Homo sapiens: one gene and its partner. The protein of the gene in region 2 purifies or fractionates together with the protein of the main gene of each other region. This does not show direct contact. Each region holds a gene or a part of one and is shown on either strand. Other genes may lie near its edges. The genes, in order: PBLD and PLEKHS1.

Region 1 (7,000 bases), about 45 Mb from region 2:
CGCCTGTAGTTCCAGCTACTGGGGAGGCCAAGGCAGGAGAATCACTTGAACCTGGGAGGCTGAGGTTGCAGTGAGCCGGGATCATGCCACTCCGTTCTAGCCTGGGTGATGAAGTGAGACTATGTCTCAAAAAGATATAATAATACAATATAATAGCTAGTAGTTATTGGGCACTTACTAGGTGCCAGGCACTGTATTAAGCCCTTAACATGCATTGTGCTTTTATAGCCCTATGAGGTATTATATACAATTTATAGAGGAGGGAACTGAGACTTTTAAAAGTCAAGTCACTTGCCCAAGGTCAAAAGCTAGGAAGCTAGGAATGTAAACCCAGGCTGTCTGACACTCAGGTTTAACCCTGTTATCCACCTGCTCTATTTTATGTTTTTCATGGAAGACTTCAGTGAAGGGATGGCAGGGATGGGGAAAGATAGAGGAACAAGGCAGCTCAAAACTCAAGCCACCTGAAAGGTCACAGGAAGTGCACTTAAATAACTATTTGTGATCCTCCTCTTCCATTGTTTAACCCTCCCCTGGGCTCAAGTAAAAAGTACCTGTCACTGGGTCTTCAGCCACACCAACCCACGGTGCAAAATATCTTGAGTAAAAGTCAAATGCTTGGGTCTGCCCACCAGGCTCTCCTTTAAGGGTAAGAATAAGCCCTTTCACCTTCCCTGTGTTTTCAACTTGCAGCAGATTCTCCGTGTTCACTTTCAGGTTCTCCAGAAACGACCTTGTTCATAAACAAGATGGATTAGGACAAACCCATTTCACAGCCCACTCACCACACAGACTCTGTGAAGCAGGCCAGGGTGCAGCTTGCTCAAAGAGCTTAACAGGAGGGGAAGGAAGAACAAGTGGGAATGTCTTCCTATCAGGGAAAGAAACACTCTGGCTGCGTAAATCATGGTTTGACTGGACACAGCACAGCCAGACTAAGGAAGAGCTATAAATCTGGGTACTCAGCCCTCCCCAAAGTGCTGATGCAGCCAAAAATCTTACCTGTTGTAAACGTCACTGAGGCGGACGAGGAGCTTTTGGGTATCTGGAGAATAACAGATGTCCTGGACCAGTGTGTTGCCTATGGCAGTCTGTGGAGACAGACCAAAAACTCCTCAGGGACATGCCCTGGGCCAAGTCCTTGATCCCCTGAAATGGGAAATGACCTCTCATTGAGCATCCACTGTGAGCCAAGCATGCCCATCGTCTCCAGTCCCCAAGAGTGTTAGTGCAGTTTCAGAGCTTAAGGTGTTGCCCAAGGATGGTCAGTCTCCTGGCTACCAAAGAGGCCTCTGTGAGCCTCAAAACAGGCATTGTGGCCAGGTGCAGTGGCTCACACCTGTAATCCCAGCACTTTGGGAGGCTGAGGTAGGTGGATCACCTGAGGTCAGGAGCTCGAGACCAGGCTGGCCAGCATGGCAAAACCCCATCTCTACTAAAATACAAAAATTAGTCGGGCATGGTGGTGCACTCCTGTAATCTCAGCTACTCGGGAGGCTGAGGCAAGAGAATCACTTGAACCTGGTGAACCAAGAATCACTTGTGAGCCAAGAATCACTTGGCCGAGATCGCACCACTGCACTCCAGCCTGAGAGACAGAATGAGACTCTGTCTCAAAAAAGAAAAAAAACATAGGCATTCTCACAAGTGCCTACTATGTGCCTCAATGCACAACTCCTTCAAGTAGGTATTCTCCCCACAGAGAAGGAGAAAGAGACTTAGAAAGGCCAAAGATCACACACACACACACACACACACACACACATATCTTGACCCAGGTCTGAGAAGGTCAGAGAAAAAGCTCTAAATCCCTACTGTCCATCATCTTTAGAGATGGAGGGGCCTCATGTCCACCTCTTAGAGCTGTGAGGATTAAATAAAATCGTATATGTGGAGTATCTGCAGCAGCAATTAGAACGTTCCACACGGCAAGCACTCAGGGCTAGCAGCTTGATTGGAAGGAGGGACTAGAGGGCTCGTCCTGTGCTGCTCTGCTTGGCAAGCACACCACTTTCACTCAGATTGTATGTGACAGATCAATAACATAACATGTTCTCAAGATACCCTGGTTCACTCTACCTGACTGCACATAATCTTGCTGAAATCCAGGAACATCATTTGTTTGTATGTTTGTTTGAGGGTGGCTTGGGGCAGAGGGGGATTATGAGGAGACAACCCCTTCCCACACCACCAAGTCATCCTTTGGCACCAGCCCCAGCTGCCAGGCCCAGCAGATGGTAATTACATGGTAATTGTATGGCAGTCACTAGGTGGCTTCAGGTTCTCTAATCCTTGTTAGAGGCCAAGATACTCCAGTTCCCACATCCAGAATTCCTTCTGCCTTGGGTGGTACTTGGGCTTTCTGCCTCTGTGACTATGGGCTGACCAATGTAACTTCCTCAAGAAATGGGAACTCCTACAGCCGGATCCCATCTGTTCTCCAGAGCCTTAGTCTCTCGAACCCAGCCCTTATCTGCATGAGTTTGTACATTGATTTAAAAGTTCAGGGGTGGGCGCGGTGGCTCACACCTGTAATCCCAGCTCTTTGGGAGGCCGAGGCAGGCGGATCACCTGAGCTCAGGAGTTCGAGACCAGCCTGACCAACATGGAGACACCCCGTCTCCACTAAAAATACAAAATTAGCCAGGCATGGTGGCGCATGCCTGTAATCTCAGCTACTTGCGAGGCTGAGGCAGGAGAATTGCTAGAACCCAGGAGGTGAAGGTTGTGGTGAGCCAAGATCACACCATTGCACTCCAACCTGGGCAACAAGAGCAAACTCCGTCTCAAATAAAAAAAAAGGTTTAATTCTTGGCTGGGAATCTTACTGCCAGTTTCTAGGGAAGAACACAAAATGGCAATACTTACAACCCTTTGTTATCCCATTTAATAAATGCTGACCCTGAGACTAAGTTGAGTTCTTTCTACCATGAACAAGGTCTACCATTATAAGTTTTTTCCACTTTCTTACCAGTATGTTTAAAGCAGTTTGTTTTTAAATTTGGCTTGTCTCCAAAACCCAAGCCATGGATGGGGTTGAGTATAAAATCAGAATCCATCATGCTTATTTGTTTATATTCTTTGAAAACACAGATAAAGCCAAATACTAGAGACTACAAATGCTGTAGTTAAAAATTCACTGAGAAATACCCAAGTAGTACTCACAATAGACTAAGCTACAGAATCATTTTTCTCATGACAGCCCTTGCCCTGGTCCTGACCTGGGCCCTCTCTTCTCTACACACCAAGCCCCTGGTCATCCAGGGCTGCTCTGGCCCTGCAGAACCTTCATGGGACAACTGCAGTGCCTACCTTACTGAGAAACATTGAGAATTAAATGGACAATGCAAGTGAAATGCTCAGCATGTGGCACTGCACACAGAGAGACTCTCAAAATGTTTCATCATCATTAATATTATTAAGCCCCATGCCCACACAGACCCCATGAGGAGCCCATGTTCTGTATCTTGTCTTATCTGCAAGGTACTCATGCTTTCTTGGTTTCCTCTATCAAAGCACAGCCCTCCCCCACCTCAGTCCCATCCTTTACTACAGAAACTGGGGACACTGACAGCTGCCAGGAAGGTTCCATTTTTTCCCTCCATCTTGTGTGTATGGATTTTATGGAATGACCTCTTTCTGCCAGAAATTCCCAACTTTCACACCTGAACTTGCACAGCCATGCTCGGGGCCCATTCCTCTCCTTCTAGCTAGAGAAGCACAGAAATTCAACATCCCTTAATTTCCCTAAAGGCTGGTCTCCTCCCAGAAACTTACATTTCCTTAAGACATCCTATTCTCCCTCTTCTTTACCACCTCCATTGGTTCTTTTGTGCCTTTCAGCCTGTCATATAACAGTGTCTCTTCCCTCCATCCTACCATGGGGGCCAGCAGTGACAATCAGGAGCCAAGGAAAACTGGTCAACCTTCTCACCAAATAGACTGAATATTAAAATTCAAACCTGAAACACTGTAACATTTATATTGGTAAAATGCCTATCTTTGTGGATCAAATGATACCAAATCTTTGTGTGCAAACAATAACAAATAACTAGGCTCAGGTTTGATTCTTTTTACCAACCTTTATCAAGTCCTCTACTTCATGGAAGTCCTAGATGGGGGGAAAAAAAACAAAATTATTATAAAACAGGAGAGCTGTCGGTTGTAGATGGCTTAGGGCAATAATTACAAAGAGCTGACCTGGGGGTGGGCTGGATAAAGAGGCAAGTCCAGGACGATGCCATCCTCTGCTCGTCTGGCCCTTAGTTCTCCACTCAGAGTGACAAACGTGAGCGTGCTATTCATGTTTTCTGGCCAAAATAGGAATCAAGAAATAGGAAATAAACTTTGTCATATATGCGCATGTCCATTTCAAACACCTTTGCATTGTCTTAGATTTTCTGGCACTGTCATCCTTTTCTATGATGGAGCGAGGTTTGGGTTGCTGAGGTCTAGAATGGAGAAAACTCTCACTAGATTCTAACTTGAGAACCAAGAACATAACTGATCAGATGTGGCGTCATACTTCAAGGCTTCAGATCCCAGCTCTTTACTGCTTACTGTGCCCTTACTAACTTAGCCTCCTTTTTTTTTTTTCTTGAGACATGGTCTCACTGTGTTGCCCAGGCTGGAGTGCAGTGGCACGATCTCAGCTCACTGTACCCTCTGCCTCCCACATTCAAGTGATTCTCCCACCTCAGCCTCCCAAGAAGCTGGAATTACAGGTGTGCACCATCACATCCAGCTAATTTTTGTATTTTTAGTAGAGACGAGGTTTTATCATGTTGGTCAGGCTGGTCTCAAACTCCTGACCTCAAGTGATACACCCACCTCGGCCTCCCAAAATGCTGGGATTACAGGCGTGAGCCACCACACCTGGCCAGCCTCCTTAAATCTCAGTTTCCTCATCTATAAAATGAGGTTAATACATTAAACCTACCATTTATAATGTTTTCTCTTTCTTTGAGGAACTGTCTCACTCTGTTGACCAGGCTGGGGACTGGCTCACTGCAGCCTTGACCTCCTGAGCTCAAGCAATCCTCCCACCTCAGCCTCCCCAGTAGCTGGGACTACAGGCATGAGCCATAATGCCTGGATAATTTTTAAATATTTTGTAAAGACAGGGTCTCACTATGTTGCTCAGGCTGGTCTCTAAGTTCTAGACTGAAGCAATCCTCCCGCCTTGGCTCCCAAAGTGTTGGGATTACAGGCATGAACCACTGCACCCAGCCTGTAATGTTTCTAATACAGATTTTAAAATATCCAGCAGCAACAACCATAGAGTCATAACCTCTTCTAGTCTAAGATACGCCAAGGGAATAACAAAACATTTAAGTTGTAAATATCAGTGTTATATGAAATAAATTTGGTTTATCCTAAATGAACCAAACTTTTTACATAACAATGTAATTTAAAGAATGCACCACAAATGTTGGCATCCCATGTTACTGATACAACTTGGGCTACTTATCAGTGTGTATAACATTTTTAGTGAAAACAAAGAATGCTGACCCAATTCTTTTCTCTCCCTTAATATTTCTGTAAAACTTAAACCACATGTCAAAGGTGAAGAACTTTGGCTTGTTAACTTTTATTGAGCATAAAATTGACATTCAGAAACACAAAGCTTAATTTTTCTCATTACGATTTGCATAAGACATTATTTACAAAGCATTTTTTCATACCTTATCTTATCTAACCTGAAGACTGCCCTATGGGGGTTTCCAGGATGTTATTATTCCAAACCTCAGCATCAAACCAACCCACGTGGAGTCCAGTTTTCAAAAGACACTCAATCTTGCTTTGGGAGGCCGAGGCGGGTGGTTCACCCGAAGTCAGGAGTTTGAGACCAGCTTGGCCAACATGGTAAAACCCCATCTCTACTAAAAATACAAAAATTAGCCAGGCGTGGTGGCAGGCACCTGTAATCCCAGCTACTTGGGAGGCTGAGGCAGGAAAATCACTTAAACACAGGAGGCAGAGGTTGCAGTGAGCCAAGATCTTGCCATTGCACTCCAGCCTGGGTGACAAGAGCAAAACTCCATCTCAAAAAAACAAAAACAAAAAAACAAAAGACACTCAATTTAATTTCAGTAAACCCTATTTTTCAAGACTCAATTCCTAAACATTTCGGAATGTTTGCTTGCCTTTTGCACATGTCCCCTATCCACAGATACCAAAATCATCTTTTTAAAATGTATATTGAATTACATTATATGGCTTCTCAACTTTATCTCCTGCCAATCATATAGACAGGCCCCAGGGACTTTGCACTTGTTAGCCTCTGCCTGGGATGCTCCTCCTCTCGCTCTAGCTCATCCCACAGATGCTTCATCTTATCCTTTCGCCCAAAGTTCCCCTTCTCTGGTGGGTGCTGATCCATATTCTATGTCTGACCCATGGCCTCAGGACTGGGACTCCATGAGGCAAGGAAGTACCATAGGGTACAAAATGTAAGGAGACACCTGCTCTCAGCTGCAACCTGGGGCCTTGCTGGCTCTGCCTACACCTGGCCCTGACCCTGCTTGCCCAGAGTGCTAGTGGCCAACAGCTCTCAACTGAGTCACTCTCTTGGAGTTACCTTTGGCTGAGTAGAGCTACCTTGCCCAAAGTCATACATCTTTTCCAGGCTTTGGGAACTGGTCCATGGAGGGTAAAAAGGCCTGAATCTTTGCCTCTACTTGGAACTATACTACTTGAAAAAATGTCCAGCTTTAGAGCTCCCCACGGATTTGGCCTAGGCCTTTCCTTGTTGCTACTACTCTGCAGTTCAATTTCTCCCTCTATTCAATCCTACTTTCTTTTTCTTCTTTTCCTCGAGGTGGAGTCTCGCTCTGTCGCCCAGGCTGGAGTGCAATGGCACAATCTCGGCTCACTGCAACCACGGCCTCCCAGGTTCAAGCGATTCTCCTGCCTTAGCCTCCTGAGTAGCTGGGACTACCGGCGCCCGCCACCATGCTCAGCTAATTTTTGTATTTTTAGTAGAGACGGGGTTTTGCCC
Region 2 (11,142 bases):
TAAAACATTAACTGAACAAAAATAAAGACAATGTATTGTGCAGATTATAACATATGTACAAGTAAAATGCATTCCAACAGTAGCATAAAGGCCAATAGGGAAAAATGGAAATACGCTTTTGTAAAGTTCTTTTATTATATGTGAATTGGTATACTATCACTTGAAGTTAGACTGTGATGTGTATAAACCCTAAAGCAATCACTAAAATAACAAAACAGAAAGTAATGACTAATAAGCCAACAAAGGAGATAAAATGGATTCATAAAAAATTCGATTATTCCAAAAGAAGGCAGAAAAGGGGGAAAGGGAGAACAAACAACAAATAGGACAAACAGAAAATAAATAACAATATGATACATTTAAACCTGACTATATCAGTAATTATGTTAAACGTAAATGGTCTAAACACCTCAATTAAAAAACAGAGATGACCAGATTGGATAAAAAAGCAAGACTCAACTCTATGCTGCCTGTAAGAAACACACTTTAAAGATGAAGATACAAGTGGGTTACAAGGAAATAACTGGAAAAAAAGATATGCTATGCCAACGCTAGTCAAAGAAAGCTGGAGTGCCTATATTAACATCAATGTAGATTTTAAAGCAAATAATATTACCAAGGACAAAGAATATCATTTCATAATAAAGGGATGAATTAATCCTAAGAGGACATAAAAATTTAAACATATATGCCCTTATAACATAGCTTCAAAATACATGAAGCAAAAACTGATAGAACTGCATGAATAAATGGACACATCCGCAATTATAGAGATTTCAATATCCCTCTCTCAAGAACTGATAGAACAAATAGTGCTAAAATTGATTTTTTAAATTTTGGATGCATTTTTAATGTTTTAAATAATAAGTTTGCTAAGAGTTTTCATTCAAGAAGAGTAATGCTGGCCTCATAGAATGAGTAGAGAAATATTCCCTTCTCTTCAATTTTGTAGAAAATCAGCAAGAATACAGTAGGCTTGAACAACACTACCAACCAACTTTAACTGATTGATATTTATAGAACATTCCACTCAATGACAATAGAGTATACATTCTTCTCAAGGGCACATGCAACATTTATTAATATAGATGTATTCTGGGCCATAAAACAAGTCTCAATAAATTTAAAAGCATTCAAATCATATAAATCATGTTTTCAGAGCACTATGAAATCAAATTATAAATCAATAACAGACCTCTTAAAAGATCCTGAAATAAATAATCTCTAAATTTAAAAAATCCCAAAAATAAATTAGAAAGTTTTTTGAACTGGATGAAAATTAAAACACAAGGTATCAGAATTTGTGGATGCCACTAAAGCAGTACTTAGGGAAAAATTTTTTAATGGCTATGTTAGAAATGGCCATGTTTGAAAAGAACAAAAGTCTCAAATTAATTACCTCAGCTTCCACCTGAAACGTTTCAGGAAACTAAACTGAAAAAAAAAAAAAAAAAAAAAGGAACAAATCTAAAGTCAATAGAGGAAGGGAGATAATAAAGATAAAAGTGGAATTCAATGAAAGAGAACACAGAAAAACAACAGAGACAACCAATGAAACCAAAGTTAATCCATTAAAAAGATTAAGTTAACAAACCTCTACCTAGGCAGATAGACCAGAAAAACTGGAGAGAAAACACAATTTGCCAATATTAGGAGGAGAGAGGGGACATATCTACAGAGTCTACTGATATTAAAAGGATAATAAAGAAATATTATAGACAACTTTATTCCAATAAATTTGGCAACTTAGGTAAACTGAAAAATTCCTTGAACTACACCAACAAAGGTCACTGAAGAAGAAATAGATAACCTGAATAGCCTCCTATAGTTATTAAAGAAATTGGAGTTGTAGTTAAAAATTCTTCATATAGGCCCAAGTGGCTGTACTGTTCTCTTTGATCAAACATGTAAGCAAGAAATAATCAATTCTACACAAAGCCTCCCAAAAAAATTGAAGAGAAGGGAATATTTCTCAACTCATTCTATGAGGCTAGCATTACTCTTCTTGATTGAAAACTCTTAGCAAACTTATTTAAAACATTAAAAAATGCATCCAAAATAAGTAAAAATAAATAAAACATCCAAATGGAAAAGAATGAAATAAAATCATTTCTATTTGCAAGTGACATAATCTCATATGTTAAAAATCCCAAAGAATCCCCAAAAACTACTAGAGCTAATAAATTCAGCAGTATTCAAGAACAACAGACAAAAATTAGCTATATTTCTATAAACCAGCAATAAATAATCCAAAAATAAAATTATGAAAACAGTTCCATTTACAATAGCATCCAAAAGAAAAAAGTACCTAGGGTTAAATTTAACTAGGCAGATAAAAAGACTGGTACACTGCAAACTAGAAAAATTGCTGAAATAAAGAGACATAAATTAATGGGAAAACATTCCATATTTATGAATTGAAAGACTTAATACTGTTAAGATATAAATACTACCTAAAGCAATCTATAAATTCAATGCAATCTCTATTAAAATCCCAATGGCATTTTTTATCTTGTAAAACTAGAAAAGCTAATCCTCAAAATCATCAAAAATACCAAGGGGCCCTGAATATCCAAAATAATCTTCAAGAAGAACAAAGAGTACACACACTTCCCAATTTCAAAACTTACTACAAAGCTACAATAATCAAGAGTGTCGTTTTGGTATAAGGACAGATAAGACACATAGGCCAATGGAATAGAATTCAGAGTCCAGAAACAAACCCATACATTAGTGGTCACGGCCATTCAATGGGGAGAGAACAGTCTTTTCAATAAATGGTGCTGGGCCAACTGAGTATTCACATGCAAAAGAATGAATTTGGACCCCTATGTCATCCCAAATAATGAAGTTAACTCAAATAAATGACCTTAACATGAGAGCTAAAACCATAAAACTTTTAGTAGAAAACATAGGTGTAAATTTTTATAATCTTGGATTTGACAATGTATTCTTAGATATGATACCAAAAGCACAAGCAACAAACAAAAAAGATAAACTAGACTTCATCAAAATTAAAAACTTTTGTGCATCAAAGGATATTATTAAGAAAGTGAAAAGACTACCTACAGAATGGGATAAAATATTCAAAAATCATATATCTGACCAGGGCCTACTATCCAGAATATATAAAGAACTCTTACAATGCAACACAAAAAGACAAACAACTCAACTAAAAAGTGAACAAAGAACTTGAACAGACATTCTTCTAAAGAAAATAAGCAAATAGCCAATAAGCACAAGAAAAGCTGTGCAATACATTTAGTCATTAAGGAAATGTAGATCAAAATTAAAATAAGAAACCACTTCATGCTCACTAGGATGGCTATAACTTTTTTCTTTTTTTTTTGAGATGTAGCCCAGGTTGGTCTGGAACTCATGTGCTCAAGCAATACTACTGCCTTGGCCTCCCAAAGTACTGGGATTATAGGCGTGAGCCACCACACCTGGCCCATTCTACTCTTAAGTAAAGGAATATACAAATACAAAAGCTGGTCATGAATGTTGATAGCAGCTTTATTTGTAATAGCCAAAGACTGGAAGCAACCCTGATGTTCATCAACAGGTGAAAGGATTAACACATTGTGATACATCTATACAATGGAATACTATATGGGAATAAAAAGAAACAAACTATTGACAGATGCAACGACATGGGTAAATCTCAAGATAATTATGCTGAGTGAAAAAGATGTCAGACAGAAAGTGTTCATACTGCATGATTATATAAAGTTCTATACAAACTAACATATAGGGATAGAAAGCAGATCAGGGGTTGTCTGGGGAAGTATGACTGCATGGAAGAGTGGGAGGCAGGGGACCAAGAAAACTTGTGAGGTTGATGAATATGCTTATTATCCTGATTTAGGTGATAATTTTATGGCTGTGTACATTTGCCAAAACTTATTAAATTGTAGACTTTAAACATGTCAGCCTACTGTATGTCAATTATACCTCAATAAAGCTTTTTAAAAAATCTAACAAATTTGAATGAAAAGTAAGCATACTCCAACCATATGACCCAGCCATTTTGATTCTAGGTAAAATAAAGAAATATATGATTTTACAAAAATTAATGCACAAATGTTCATATTAGCTTTATAATAGGCGAAGACTGGAAGCAACCTGGATATTCAACAGGTGAATGAATCAACAAATTGTAGTACATCCATATAATGGAATACTACTCATCAAAAAAATGAACTATTTTTGCACTATTGGTGCACTCAATACCAGGGATATATTTTTAAAAAATTATGCTGAGTGAAAAAAGTCAGACAAAAGGGTGTATGCTGTATGATTCCATTTATGTTAAACTCTAATAAATACAAACAAACTTACAGTGAGAGAAAACAGAACAATGGGGACTGGGATTGGGTGTGCAGAAAAGGATTACAAACAGGCACAAGAAAACATCAAGAGTGATGAGTGTGTTTACTATTACCCAGGCTGGAGTGCAGTGGTATGATCTTGGCTCACTGCAACCTCTGCCTCCCAGTTCAGGTGATTCTCTTGCCTCAGCCTCCTGAGTAGCTGGGATTACAGGTGCCGGCCATCACACCTGGCTAATATTTGTATTTTTAGTAGAGATGGGGCTTCACCATGTTGGCCAGGCTGGTCTTGAACTCCTGACCTCAAGTGATCTGCCCACCTCAGCCTTCCAAAGTGCTAGGATTACAGGCGTGAGCCACCGCACCCGGCCACATTTACCATCTTGATGATTTCCCAGGTGTCACACATATCAAATACAGGCAGACCTCATTTTGTTGCACTTCACTTTATTGTGCTTTGCATATATTGCTTTTTTTTTTATTTACAAATTGAAGGTTTATGGCAACCCTGCACTGAGCAAGTCTACTGGGACCATTTTTTCAAGAGCATATGCTTACTTAGTGTCTCTGTGTCACATTTTGGCAATTCTTGCAATATCTCAAACATTTTCATCATCATCATATCTATTAGAGTGACCAGCAATGAGTGATCTTTGAGTAATTGTTTTGGGACAGTATGAATGGTGCCCATATAAGATGGTGAACTTCAAAAATGTTGTGTGTGTTCTGATTGCTCCACTGACTGGCTATTCCCCCATCTCTCTCCTCTCCTTGGACCTCCCTATTCAATGAGACTCAACAATATTGAAATTAGGCCAATTAATAACTTTACAATGGCCTCTAAGTGAAGGCGAGTGTCAAGTGAAAGGTGAGTTACATGTCTCTCACTTTCAATTAAAAGCTAGAAAATCCTAAGGCCCTTAAGAATTATACTAAATCTACTCTACTTGTGCTCTATCAGTGCAACAACAAAGCCTGGGTGACAGCATATCTGTTTATAACATGGTTTAATGAATATTTCTAGAAGCCCACTGCAGAGACCTGCTACTTAGAAAAAAAAAGATTCCTTTCAAAATATTACTGATCATTGACAATACACCTGGTCACCCAAGAGCTCTGATGGAGATGTACAAGGAGACTAATGCTGTTTACATGCCTGCTAACACAACATCTATTCTGTAGCCCCTAGATCAAGGAGTAATTTCAACTTTTAAGTCTTATTATTTAAGAAATACATTTCATAAGGCTATAGCTGTTGTAGATCGTGATTCCTCTGATGGATCTGGGCAAAGTTAATTGAAAACCTTCTGGAAAGGATTCACCATTCTAGATGTCATAAAAATATTCATGATTCCTAGAAGGAGGTCAAAATATCAACATCAACAGGAGTCTGGAGGAAGTGGATTCCAATACTCCTCGATGACTTTGAGGGGTTCAAAACTTCCTTCAGTGGAGGAAGTCACTGCAGATGTGGTGAAAATAACAAGAGAACTAGAATTAGAAGTGAACCCTGAAGATGTGACTGAATTGCTGCAATCTCATGATCAAACTTCAACAGATGAGGAGCTGCTTCTTACGGGATATGAAAAGAAAGTGTTTTCTTGAGATGGAATCTACAGCTGGTGAACATGCTGTTTATTTTTGAAATCACAATAAAGGATTTAAAATATTACATAAACTTAGTTGATAAATCAGTGTCAGGGTTTGAGAGGATTGATTTCAATTTTGAAAGAAGTTCCACTGTGGATAAAATGTTATCAAACAGCACCACTTGCTACAGAGAAATTTTTCATGAAAGTACAATCAATCGATGTGGTCAACTTCATTGTTGTCTTATTTTAAGAAATTGCCACAGCCAGCGCATCTTCAGCAACAACCTGCCTGATTACTCAGCAGCCGTCAACATCGAGGCAAGACCCTCTGCCAGCAAAAAGATTGTGACTCACTGAAGGCTCAGATAATTGTTAGCAAATCTTAGCAATAAAATATCTTTAATTAAGGTATGCAAATTATTTACTTAGACATAATGCTATTACACACTCGACTACAGTATAGTGTACGCATAGCTTTTATGGAATCCAATAAATTCATGTGACTAGCTTTATTGTGATATTTGCTTGGTTGTATTGGCATGGAAACAAACTTGAAATATCTCTGAGGTGTGCTTGTATATGTTTCATATCAAAACTTCTATCAAATTGTACACTTTAGATATATAATAGCTTATTGTATGCCAATTACAATAAACTACAATAAAGCTATTAAAAATATGGCCAATCAGCCAACAGTGCGGTGCTCATGCCTGTAATCCCAGCACTTTGGGAGGCCAAGGCGGGTGGATCACGAGGTCAGGCGTTCAAGACCAGCCTGGCCACGATGGTGAAACCCTGTATCTACTAAAAACACACAAAAAAATGAGCCAGGCATGGTGGCAGGCGCCTCCTAGCTACTCGGGAGGCTGAGGCAGATAATTGCTTGAACCCGGGAGGCAGAGGTTGCAGTGAGTTGAGATCGCACCACTGCACTCCAGCCTGAGCGACAGAGTGAGACTCCGTCTCAAAAAAAAAAAAAAAAAAAAAGACCAATCTAAAATGTGGATCTGACCATGCCACTTCCATGCTCAAAATGCTTCAACAGTTACTTGTCATACGCGGTCAAGGTCTGGCACAATTTGGCAACACCTTTCTGCAGCCTCATCCTCTATTTTCCCTTCTCCTACCTTATAAGTATATTCTGCTTTGACACATTCTGCTTCTATACCATTTCATTGCTTTGGTCATGCCATTCCTTCTGCTGGAATGTGCTCTTTTTTCTGATTTCTTTAAAATCCCTACTCCTCCTATAGGGTCTAGCTCAAATGCCTTTCCTGTAAAACCTCTCTGGATTCTCATTACTACTTACATGCTTTTTCTTCTTCAGACTCCATAGCATTTGTACTTATTTCATGATTTCCATCACAGCCTAATCTTAATTTCCCAGCACAGTGACTTGCATGTGTTTAAGTTCTTGACAAGAATTTATTTTATTTTTTTGAGACAGAGTCTCGCTCTGTTACCCAGTCTGGAGTGCAGTGGTGCGATCTTGGCTCTCTGCAACCTCTGCCTCCCAGGTTCAAGCGGTTCTCCTGCCTCAGCCTCTTGATTAGCTGGGATTACAGGCGCACCACGCCCAGCAAATTTTTGTATTTTTAATAGAGACGAGGTTTCACCATGTTGGCCAAGCTGGCCTCAAACTCCTGATCTCAAGTGATCCACCTGCCTCAGCCTCCCACCAACAACATTTTAAAACTCTTTGAGGGCAATGACTCTTATTTATTAATCTGTATATCCCCTGCAACATAAAGCACAAAGACTCACTAGTAATAGGTGCTTTGTAAACATTTTTGAGTTGAATTGGATAATTTAACTTCTAAGTGACTTCATCCTAAACTTAGCTTTTCTATCCACTCATCTACAAAGAAGTGTATGAATAAGAGCAAGGATACTTGATACCATACATTGAGCTACCCTCATAATAAGCCCTGGTGACAATGCAGGCACTTCTCTAAGTGTGAGTTTCACGTAAAATTAAGAAAATGTTCTCCAGTCTTTGCTGGCCCATAGTTTGCTATTAACATCATCTTTGGGCAATGAATGGAAAATTTGGCTCATGAAAATCAGAAAATGCTAAACTTCTAGACAGGTAAACTCTTACACAATAATTAATTGAATCCAACAGTTCCTGCTACATTCTCCAAACCAAGAATCATTGTCACAGAATGCCACCCATTATCCCCACCTGGGTTCTGGGGCTGTACATGGTGGCTTATGCCTGTAATCTCAGCACTTTGGGAGGCTGAGAGGTGGGGAATCACCTAGGCCGGGAGTTTGAGACCAGCCTGACCAACATGGAGAAACCCCGTCTCTACTAAAAATACGAAAATTAGGCAGGCATGGTGGCATATGCCTGTAGTGCCAGCTCCTCGGGAGGCTGAGGTTAGAGGATCACTTGAGCTGGCAGGTTGCAGTGAGCTTAGATCGTGCCACTGTACTCCAGCCTACGCAACAGAGCAAGACTGTCTCAAACAAAACAAAACAAAACAACATACACAAAAACCACCAAGTTCTGTATCCTGGTTAGCTTGAAGGAAACCGTGGGGCATTTTCAATAAAAAGATTTCTGCTTCTGCGATTATACCCCTCGGGTACCTGGACTCTTCTGAGGTTTGGGTTCCATGATGGCTGTGTGTCCTCCCCTGTCAAAAGGAAGGGTTAGTGTTAGTCCCCAAACAACACTACGTGTGTTTCATTGACCAGCCACCGCTGGTCAGTGAGTATCAGGATTGTGCTCACGAATGTTGCTGAGATGGGTTGTGAGTCTCCCATTCCCATCCTTTCTTTAGTATTTCCCTCCCTGTTCCTGAGGCTGACGGTAGCTGCAGTAACGGGGACACATCTAAGCAGCTTGTCCTCACACAGTGGGTGGTTCTGCGGAGGTGTTGTTGAGAAGACTGAAGGAGCTTGTCTTCCTGGGATTTTCTCTGTTCTTACTGCTTTGATAAGAGAGCTGGCGGATGGCAACACAAAGGAGAGATAAGAACAGGGCAAAGGGCAGGATGCCATGGAGCCAACGTAGCCGAGAAAGCATCACTGGCTGAGAGGAAGCCCAAGATAAGCCTTTCTCCATGCCCAGGGGCTTGCTTTCTCCAGGGGAAACTTAAGAACAAGGACCGCCAGGCACGGTGGCTCATGCCTGTAATCCCAGCACTTTGGGAGGCTGAGGCGGGTAGATCATGAGGTCAGGAGTTCGAGACCAGCCTGACCAACATGGTGAAACCCCATCTCTACTAAAAATACAAAAATTAGCCGGGTGTGGTGGTGGGCACCTGTAATCCTAGTGCTCGCCTGTAATCCCTCAGGAGGCTGAGGTAGGAGAGTCGCTTGAACCCGGGAGGCGGAGGTTGCAGTGAGCCGAGATCACTCCACTGCACTCCAGCCTGGGCGACAGAGCAAGACTCCTGAGGATAACCTGGAGAAACTGAATCTGAGAGGCAGCATCCTTTCCTGGCCAGCTGCTGGCGATCCTATGACCATCATAGGATGGAGAGAAGGGACTCCCTCAGGGGAAGGGCTGCAGGGCAAGTGAGGTCTTTGAAACCACAAATTTGGTATGACTAACTTTTACCTTAAGTTAGTAAGACTCTCAAAATAGAAGGCCCTGAAAAGGGAGGTGCCCAAGCAGCCCCAAGTAAGATGGGGGAGGAAGCAGAGGCCCTTGACCCTCCTGACCTCTCCCTTTCTTCAACATAAACTCATTCTTCCTTCCTAACATGTAGATGACTTACAGCAATTCTTTAATTACGTGTGTGTATATGCATATACAGAGATGAAAAAATACATATATTCAGGCTGGGTGCAGTGGCTCATGCCTGTAATCCCAGTACTTTGGGAGGTTGAGGTGGGCGGATTGTTTGAGGTCAGGAATTCCAGACCAGCCTGGCCAACATGGCAAAACCCCATCTCTACTAAAAGTACAAAAATTGGCCGAGCGTGGTGGCGGGCACCTGTAATCCCAGCTACTTGGGAGGCTGAGGCAGAAGAATCACATGAACCCAGAAGGCAGAGGTAGTGAGCCGAGATCACATTACTGCACTCCAGCCTGCGTGATAGAGCAAGACTCCATCTCAAATAAAAAAAATATATAATACAAATATATATATATATGTGTTCAGAGATGAAAATCCTAAGATTAAGACAAGTTCTAAGATATGCTTTTGGTGGTTTGTCAGAGCATTTGGAAGCTCTTTGAAGACCAGTGGGATGGCTTTCCTGGACCCTGGAATCATACCTACCCTGCCCCTAGGGAAAGATTTTCTCCCTTGAGGTATCCTGTATAATCACAGTAGTGATCATTTGAACAAATTACAACTTTTCTCGGGCATCTGAAGGCATATGTTGAAGAACCGGTGCCCTTAGCCCTCGCCTGCTGTAGCGGGCACACTCAGCTCTGTGCAATGAGCTATAATGCCTGGGAAAGATGCCAAGCTATTGAGGCCGAAGGCTGTTGTTTCCTGGAAGAGCAATTCTGTGTGAGAAAGAGAACGTAACCTCTTCAAAACCTTGCCCACTCCCCAAAATGCATGGATAATATTTAAAAAATTATCCCTGAGATTTCTTATCAAATCCATGAGGTTCTTTCCAGTTTCAAGGATTTCACTGCCTGAAGAGCTGGGGACAAGCGGTTTTCAACCCATCACCTTTCCCTCTGTCCATGTTTATAGGACTTGGCCACGCCCCCTATGCAGCTGTTAGCCTAATGAGTGATGGCCCTCAAGGATCCAATCGGAGAAATGTGCAGGAGAGATTAGCTGTGGGTGGCATATTTTAAAGCAGTGTTTACTGCAAGCTGTTTTTGAGCTGCTGTTTGTCAAAAAGCCAAAAAATCATTTTAAAAAATATTTCTAAAGCCTTTAAAGTTTATAAAATGCATTTGCATACATTATTTTTTTGTGTTCAGAATGGCTTCATTCTGAGATAGCTCATTTTACAAATGAAAAGCTGCATTTGAGAGAAGACTGAGATGACTTGGACCTAGGTCCCCTGGCAGAACTCCACACAGCACCACATTCATGCTCATGGACACTCCCAAATAACATTTGCCCTCCCTGTGCCCTGTGGATGTCAAAGTGTGCTTTGGAGGACATCTCTGTCCTTCCAGTGTCTGCAAAGGGCTCCAGAGTCATGTGCTGCAACCATTCCTCCTTCATCTCCCCACCCACCGTAAAATGAGAGGACAGATAAGGCAGTAGGGTGTGGTGGTTTAGAGTGTTAGC

What was found.
Region 1: the proteins of PLEKHS1 (region 2) and PBLD purify together in Homo sapiens (affinity purification with mass spectrometry; 2 studies listed by BioGRID and IntAct, with this or other methods). This does not show direct contact.

The regions. Positions count from the first base shown.
Region 1 is NC_000010.11:68,287,929-68,294,928, forward strand, and holds part of PBLD (phenazine biosynthesis-like domain-containing protein), read right to left. Parts: intron 4,311-7,000; coding exon 4,201-4,310; intron 4,112-4,200; coding exon 4,082-4,111; intron 1,150-4,081; coding exon of another isoform or gene 1,092-1,149; coding exon 1,003-1,091; intron 734-1,002; coding exon 555-733; intron 1-554.
Region 2 is NC_000010.11:113,752,682-113,763,823, reverse strand, and holds part of PLEKHS1 (pleckstrin homology domain-containing family S member 1), read right to left. Parts: intron 8,566-11,142; 5' UTR 8,547-8,565; coding exon 8,519-8,546; exon of another isoform or gene 8,419-8,518; intron 1-8,418.